3 separate regions of the Homo sapiens genome follow, and regions 1 and 2 are each linked to region 3. Evidence: fine-mapped expression QTL. A gene starts in region 3. Each other region holds a variant in brackets. All regions are shown on one strand. Distances are between the middles of the regions.

Region 1 (2,765 bases), 70 kb after region 3:
AAGACGTTTCTGAGCCCACTGAGGCCTGTAGAGAAAAACTGTATATCCTGCAATAAAAGCTAGAAGAAAAGCTCTCCGTGTAAATGGTTCCCGATGTGTGGGTTAATCTCACAGAGTTAAACATTTGTTTTTATTTAACAGGTTAGAAACGTTCTTTTTGTAGAATCTACGAAGGAATATTTCTGAGCCCATTGAGGCCTATAGCAAGAAGCCATATATCCGTCAATAAAAACTGGAAACAAGCTATCTGTGAACATTTTTTGTGATGTATGCATTTATCTCACCAAATGGAACCTGTGTTTTGATTCACCAGTTTGGAAACACTCTTTTGTGGAATGCATGAAGGGACATTTCTTAGCCAATTGAGGTGTATAGTGATATACCAAATATCCCGGGATAGAAACTAGAAACAAGTTATCTGCAAAAATGCTCTGTGATGTGTGGATTTATCTCACAGAGATGAAGCTTTGTTTTGATTCAACATGTTGGAAACACTTTTTTTGTAGAATCTACAAAGGGACATTTCTGAGACCATTAAAAACTACAGTAAAAAAAGGTATAATGCACCTTAAAATCTAGAAACAAAGCTATCTGTGAAAATGCTTTGCAATATGTGGATTCATGTCACAGATTTAAACCTTTGTTTTGATTGAACAAATTGGAAACACTGTTTTAGTAGATTATATAAAGGGACATTTCAAAGCCCATTGAAGCCTATAGTGAAAAATCAAAAATCCCGTGAGCAAAAATAGAAACAACCTCTGTGGGAAAATGCTGTGTGATACGTTCATTCATCTCACAGGGATAACCTTTGTTTTTATTCAACACCTTGGAAACATTCTTTTTGTAGAGTCTATGAAAAAAATTTCTGAGCCAATTGAAGTCTGTAGTGAAAAAGCTAATATCCCATTTTAAAATATAAAACAAACTATGAAAATGAGTTTTGATGTGTGGATTCATCGAGAGTTAGACCTTTGTTCTAAATCAACAGGTTAAGAACACTCTTTTTGTAGAATCTATGAAAAAACATTTCTGAGCCCGTTGAGGCCTATTG[C/T]GAAGTGAATCTCTTGCAATAAAAAGCAGAAACCAGCTCTCTGTGAAATAATTTTGTGATGTACAAATTTATCTTGCAGAGTTAAAACTTTGTTTTAATTCAACAAGTTGAAACCTTCTTTTTGTAGAATCTGCAAAGAGACATTTCTGAGCCCATTGAGGCCAATAGCAAAAAAATGAATATCCCACAATAAAAACTAGAAACAAAACAGCTGTGTAAATGCTTTGCAATATGTGGATTCGTCTCACTGAGTTAAACCTATGTTTTGATTCAACAAGTTAAAAAACTTGTTTTTGTAGTATCTTCGAAGGGACAATTCTGAGCCTATGGAGATTATAGCAAAAAACTGAATATCCTGCAATAAAAACTAGAAACAAGATATCCGTGGAAATGCTTTGAGATGTGTAGATTTATTTCACAGAATTAAACCTTTGTTTTGATTTAACAGGTTGGAACCACTCTATTTTAAGAATCTATGAAGAAATATCTTTGTCCCTATTGTACACTATAGTGGACAACTGAATACTTCATGACAAAAACTAGAAACAAGCTAGCTGTGAAAATGCTTTGCAATGGGTGAATTCATCTCACTCAGTTAAACCTTCGTTTTGATTCAACAAGGGTGAAACACTCTTTTGGTAGAATCTACAAAGAAACATTTATGAGCCCCTTGAGGACTATAGTGAAAAAATGAATCTCCTGCATTAATATCTAGAAACAATCTATTTGTGAAAATGCTGTGTGATGCATGGATCCATCTCACAGATTTCAAACTTTATTTTGATTCAACAGGCTGGAAACACTCTTGTTATAGAAGCTACGAAGGGTCATTTCTGAACCCATTGAGGCCAATAGTGAAAAACTAAATATCCTGCAATAAACCTAGAAAAAATCTATCTGCGAAAATACTTTGTGTAGTGTGGATGAGTGTCTCAGGGTTAAACATTTGTTTTTATTCACCAGGTTCGAAACACTCTTTTTGTTGAACAGACAAAGGGACATTTCTTAGCCCAGTTAGGCCTATAAAGGTAAACCGAATATCCCGTGATACATAGTAGAAACAAGCTATCTGCAAAAATGCTTTGTGAATTGTAGATTCATCTCACAGAATTAAGCCTTTGTTTTAATTCAACAGGTTAAAAACACTATTTTTGTAGACTCTACGAAGAAACATTTCTGAAACCATTGAAACCTATGGGGGAAAAAAACCCCCGAAATTCCTGTGATAAGAAATGGAAAGCAGCTATCTGTGAAAATGCTTTGTAATGTGTGGATTCTTCTCACAGAGTTAAACCTTTGTTCTGATTCAACATTGTTCAGAACACTCTTTTTGTAGAATCTACAGAGATACTTTTTAGCATTTTGAGGCCTCTAGTGAAAAACCGAATGTCCTGCAATAGAAACTGGAAACAACCTTCTGTGAAAATGCTTTGTGATTCGTCTATTCATCTCAAAGAATGAAACTTGTGCTTTGATTCAACAGGTTGGAAAACCCTTTTTGTAGAATCTACGTAGGAACATTTCTGAGCCCATTGAGGCCTCTAGTGAAAAAACTGAATATCCCAGAATTAAAACTATAAACAAGCTATCTGTGAAGAAGCTTTGTAATATGTGCATTCATCTAACAGATATAAGCGTGTATTTTGATTTGCCTGGTTGGGAACACTCTTTTTGTACAGTCTATAAAGAAACATTTCTGAGTGCATTGAGT
Region 2 (2,765 bases), 510 kb after region 3:
CCTGCAAATAGAGTGTTTCCAAACTACTCAATCAAAAGAAAGGTTCAACTACATCAGATGAATGCACGCATCACAAAGAAGTGACTCAGAATGCTTCTGCAGAGTTTTTATGTAAAGAAATTTCCTTTTCCGCCACAGGCCTCAAAACGCCCCAAATACACCCTTGCAGATTCTACAAAAAGAGTGTTTCAAAACTGCTCAATCAAAAGAAAAGTTCTATTCTCTGAGATGAATGCACACATTGCAAAGGAGTTTCTCAGAATGCTTTTGTCTTGTTTTTATGTGAAGATATTTCCTTTCCCACTATAGGTGGCAAAATTCTCCAAATATCCACTTGCAGATTCTATAAAAAGAGTGTTGCAAAACCGCTCAAATAAAAAAACAGTTCAGCACTCTGAGATGAATGCACACATAACAAAATAGTTTCTCAGAATGCTTCTGTCTAGTTTTTATGTGAAGGTATTCCTTTCTCCACTATAGGTCGCAAAGCATTCGAAATATCCACTTGCTGATTCTACAAAAAGAGTGTTTCAAAACTGCTCAATCAAAAGAAAGGTTCAACTCTGTGAGATGAATGTACACATCACAAAGAAAATTCTGAGAATGCTTCTGTCTACTTTTAAGTGAAGATATTTCCTTTTCCACTATAGGAAACAAAGGGCTCCAAATATCCACTTGCAGATTCTACAAAAAGAGTGTTTCAAAACTGCTCAAAAAAAGAAATGTTCAACTCTGTGAGATGAATGCACACATTACAAAGAAGTTTCCAAGAAATCTTCTGTCTAGTTTTTATGTGAAGATATTTCATTTTCCACCGTAGGTGTCAAAGATCTCCAATTATCCATTTGCAGATATTACAAAACTCTGTTTCCAAACTGCTCAAACAATAGAAAGTTTCAACTCAGTGGGTTGAATGTGCACATCACAAAGAAGTTTCTCAGAATCCTTCTGTCTAGTTTTTAAGTGAAGATATTCCCGTTTCCACCGAAGGCCTCAAAGCAGTCCAAATATCCACTGGCAGATTCTACAAAAAGAGTGTTTCAAAGCTGCTCTATCAAAAGGAAGGTTCAACTCTATGAGTTGAGTGCATATATCACAAAGAAGTTTCTGAGAACGCTTCTGTCTAGTTTTTATATGAAGCTATTTCCTTTTCTACCATAGGCCTCAAAGCGCTCCAAATATCCACTTGCAGATTCTACAAAAA[G/C]AGTGTTTCCAAACTGCTCTATTGAAAGTAACGTTCAACTCTCTGAGTTTAATGCACGCATCACAAAGTAGTTTCTGAGAATGTTTCTGTCAACTTTTTATGTGAAGATATTCCCATTTCCACCATAGGCCTCAAAGCGCTCTGAATATCCACTTACAGATTCTACAAAAAGATTTTCAAAATTGCTCTATCAAAAGGAAGGTTCAAAACTGTTAGTTGAATGCAAGCATCACAAAGCATTTCTGAGAATGCTTGTGTTTAGTTTTACGTAAAGATATTTGCTATTTTACCATAGGCCTCAAGGTGCTTCAAATATCCACTTGCAGATTCTACAAAAAGACTGTTTCAAAACTGCTCTATCAAAAGAAAGGTTCAACTCTGTGAGTTGAATCCACACATCACAAAGAAGTTTCTGAGAATGCTTCTGTCTAGTTTTTATGTGAAGATATTTCCTTTTCCGCAGTAGGCCTCAAAGCATTTCAAATATTCACTTGCAGATACTACAAAAACAGTGTTTCAAAACTGTTCTATCAAAAGGAAGGTTCAACTCTGTGAGTTGAATGCATACATCACAAAGAAGTTTCTGATAATGCTTCTCTCTAGTTTTTATATGAAGATACTTCCTTTTCAACCACAGGCCTCAAAACTCTCCAAATGTCCACTTGCAGATTCTACAAAAAGAGTGTTTCAAAACTGCTCTATCAAAAGGAAGGTACAACACTGTGAGTTCAATGCAAGCATCACAAAGAAGATTCTCAGAATGCTTCTGTCTAGTTTTTGTGTGAAGATAATTCCTTTTCCACCATAGGCCTCAAAGTGCTCCAAATATCCACCTGCAGATTTTACAAAAAGAGTGTTTCAAAACTACTCTACCAAAAGCAACGTTCAACTCTCTGCATTCAATGAACACATCACAAAGACGTTTTTTATAATGCTTCTGCTGTTTTTTATGTGAAGATATTCCCATTCCCACTGAAGGCCTCAAAGCACTCCAAACATCCGCTTTCAGATTCTACAAAAAGAGTGTTTCAAAACTGTTATATCAAAAGGAAGGTAAAACTCTGTGAGTTGAATGCACACGTCACAAAGAAGTTTGTGAGAATACTTCTGTCTAGTTTTATGTGAAGATGTTCCCATTTCCAACGAAGTCCTCAAAGGAGTCCAAATATCCACTTGCAGAAACTACAAAAAGAGTGTTTCAAAACTGCTCTATCAAAAAGGTTCAACTCTGTGAGCTGAATGCAAACATCACATAGTAGTGTCTGAGCATGCTTCTGTCTGGTTTTTATCTGAAGATATTCCCATTTCCACCAAAGGCCTCAAAGCGCTCCAAATAACCAATGGCAGATTCTAAAAAAAAGAGTGTTTCAAAACTGCTCTATCAAAAGAAAGGTTCACCTCTGTGAGTTGAATGTAAGCATCACAAAGGTGTTTTGGAGAATGCTTCTGTCTATTTTTTATGTGAAGTTATTTCCCTTTGCATGATAGGACTCAAAGCTCTCCAAATATCCACTTGCAGATTCTACAAAAAGGGTGTTTCAAAACTGCTCTCTCATGGGTG
Region 3 (2,765 bases):
ACATCTATCTAAAAGGCGCTAGTGAGGGTGACATTTCCAGGAAGCCATAGCCCATGTCACCCCCTGCAAAGCTGTGACCTTTTCCGCGGGCAGGCCAGGCGGCGGAGTTCTCCCAAAAGCGGATGAACTGGCACTCTGGCTGGAGAAAGCAGAGAGCAGCAGCACAATGGACAGCGTCTGGGACCTCAGGCCGATTCCACAGCAGCTTAGGAAAGCAGGAGGCCCCCTGGGCGGGAGGAGGCTTGATGCTCTGGAGGGAAACGGAACTGAGCAGCGGGAGGTGGGGTGAGCCTGAGACCCGACCGATTTTGGCAAAGGCGAGGCGCACTTTGCAGTATCATACTCTCCTCACTGCCCAGCCCAGACCTGCCCTTCAAGTCCCTCTATGGACTCACTCCCCTTAGCCAGGGGTGGCACAGATTCAGTAGCCAGCATGGGTTTGGAAACAGAGGTCAACACCGCCCTGCCCCTCCCTGCGGGGCTGCGCAACACCCTTGAACCCTGCGCATGCTGAGACTGTAGTCCCATAGCCCTGCGACCAACGGCCGGAAGCAGCTAAGACACTATTACCAGCATGCCCGGCAGGAGGGCACCGCGCTGCCCCCCCCCCTCAAGGGACCAGCATCATCCCCACTCCCGTAGCATACTGGGATTGTAGTCCCGCAGCTCTGCCACCAACAGCCAGAAGCAGTTAAAAAACTGTTCCTCTCAGCATGCCCTGCAAGGCGCGCACCGCTGCTGTACCTCCCTTAACGTATCCGTAACCTCCCTCAACGTATCCGTACCTCCCTCAACGTATCCATACCTCCCTCAAGGTATCCGTACCTTCCTCAAGCTATCCGCACCACCCTCTCTTCCATTTCATGCGAAGATTGTAGTCCCGCAGCCCTGCGACCAGCGGCCGGAAGCAGCTAAGATGCTACTGCTCCCAGCATGCCCCGCGAGGCGCGCACAGCACAGGCCCTCTCTCAAGGTCACCACCTCCACTCCCGTTGTATGCTGGGATTGTAGTCCGGCCGCCCTGTGACTAACGGCTGGAACCGCCTAAGACACCACCCCAGCCAGCATGGCCGGCAGGAGCGCACCGCGCTGTCTCCCTCCAGGGATCCGCACCGCCCTACAATCCTGCTTTGTGCTGAGATTGTAGTCCTGCAGGCGTACAACTAACAAGCTGGGTGCAGATAAGAGACTACAGCTCCCCGCATCCCAAGCAAAGGTCCCTCCTCTACGGAGCCCCTCCACGCGTCCACTGCGGTTCCGCCGTGCCAAGGGGAGCTTGGCTGTTCACGGGCCTCACCTGCTAGCGAGAAGATAGCTTGGCCGGGCGGCTGATCTCACCTTGTAATTCTGACACTGTGTCTCCCGGGCTTGTCGGCTTCATGACTTGTGCCCAAAGTTTGATTTCTCGCAGACCAGGTAAAAGCCAAGAGGCTCTCATAGGCGCCTTGGCAGAGTTGCCATTGGAACGGGCGTCCTCTAGTAGCTGGGATCTCCCCGCCCCTTCCTCCTGAGGGGCCACTCCTTTCTGCCCCACCCTTCTTATTGCCCCACCCTTTGCCACACTCCTTCAGAGATGCGCAGTGCTGCCCCTTTCTATGGGCAGGGCCGAAGGTCCGCGTGTAAAAGTACCCAGTCCCTGGTAACCTGACACTTCCCTTTTAAAAGCCACCTTTTGTCTATCTCTGGCCTGCCACGATTCTTCCTGTGCTCCATAGGAGGACCCATTGGACCCCCGGGCTGGCTGCAGGGCCCACACCTGGGTTAGACCTCGCACAGGGACGCTGCTGCCACTGTAATAAAGCGTGCCTACACGCTTCTGAAACTGGTGTAGGAACAACCTCAGTTCTGTGAAAGGCGGACGCAGCAGGACAGAATCTCCGTGGACATCTGTCTGGAGGAGCAATTTTACTGCGACATTTTAAAGAAACAAATTTAATTGATTTCCAAGGTAAGAAATTAAACCTTGAAAACTAAACTGAAAAGTCATCTGTGTTTGACAAGTCAGACTTTCTCCAAGAAGAAAACTAAGGAGTGCATATTTTCCATTATTATAAATAGTGAAAATGAGAAATCATAGCAACTCCCTGGAAAATCTTGCTCTGCCAGTTTTCTAAATCACAGTAGGGCCTCGATATGGTTTTATTTGTTTTTGTTTTTGTTTTGGAGTGTGTTCACCTTTTGAATATAAGAATTTGCGGTTTTGACCAAGTTTTTAAATTTTCAGCTATTGTTTATTTGTTTTTGTATTATATTTAATTTTTCTGTCTCTCCCTCTCTGTCTCAGACTCAATCATTTCACAGGTCTCTTAGGCCTCTTTTCATTTTCTTTAAACTTGTTTCAGTCTTCAGATTGGATGGTTTATATTGCTGTCTTCTGTTTCTACTCTGTAAACTAAAAGTTCTTTTTATTTTATTATTTTATTGTCTTCTATTTTACTCTTTTTATAATTTCCATGTCTCTGCTGAGACTCTACATGAGTTAATTCATTATGAGAATATTTTCCTTTACCCCCATGAACGTACTTATAATAGCTGCCCTGAAATACTTGTCTGCTGATTACATCATCTCGGACATCTTAGAAATAGCTTCTGCTGCCTGCTTTTTATCTTGTGTATAGTTTGCATGTTACATTTCTTCACACATTTTATGAATTTTAATATTGTGTAATAGAAATTATAAATATTAGTTATAGAGACTAAATTCTGTTGTATTCTTTGGAAGAGCATTGTTATTATTTGAAGAGGGGGTAAATGTGGCTGAATTC

The links.
Region 1: its variant is fine-mapped to the expression of LINC02987 in whole blood (INTERVAL, PIP above 0.99).
Region 2: its variant is fine-mapped to the expression of LINC02987 in esophagus mucosa (GTEx, PIP above 0.99).

The regions. Positions count from the first base shown.
Region 1 is chr19:27,722,605-27,725,369 of GRCh38, reverse strand. No RefSeq gene overlaps it. Among named protein-coding and RNA genes, the nearest start is that of LINC02987, 69 kb to the left of the region's middle. The variant C/T (reference allele first, on the strand shown) is at 1,055.
Region 2 is chr19:27,286,409-27,289,173 of GRCh38, reverse strand. No RefSeq gene overlaps it. Among named protein-coding and RNA genes, the nearest start is that of LINC02987, 510 kb to the left of the region's middle. The variant G/C (reference allele first, on the strand shown) is at 1,205.
Region 3 is chr19:27,792,183-27,794,947 of GRCh38, reverse strand. LINC02987 (long intergenic non-protein coding RNA 2987) reads right to left here and starts at 1,517. Exons shown (of 7, transcript NR_146733.1): 1 at 1,339-1,517. LINC00662 (long intergenic non-protein coding RNA 662) reads left to right here and starts at 1,008. Exons shown (of 3, transcript NR_027301.1): 1 at 1,008-1,416; 2 at 1,716-1,948. RefSeq lists an enhancer at 796-1,275.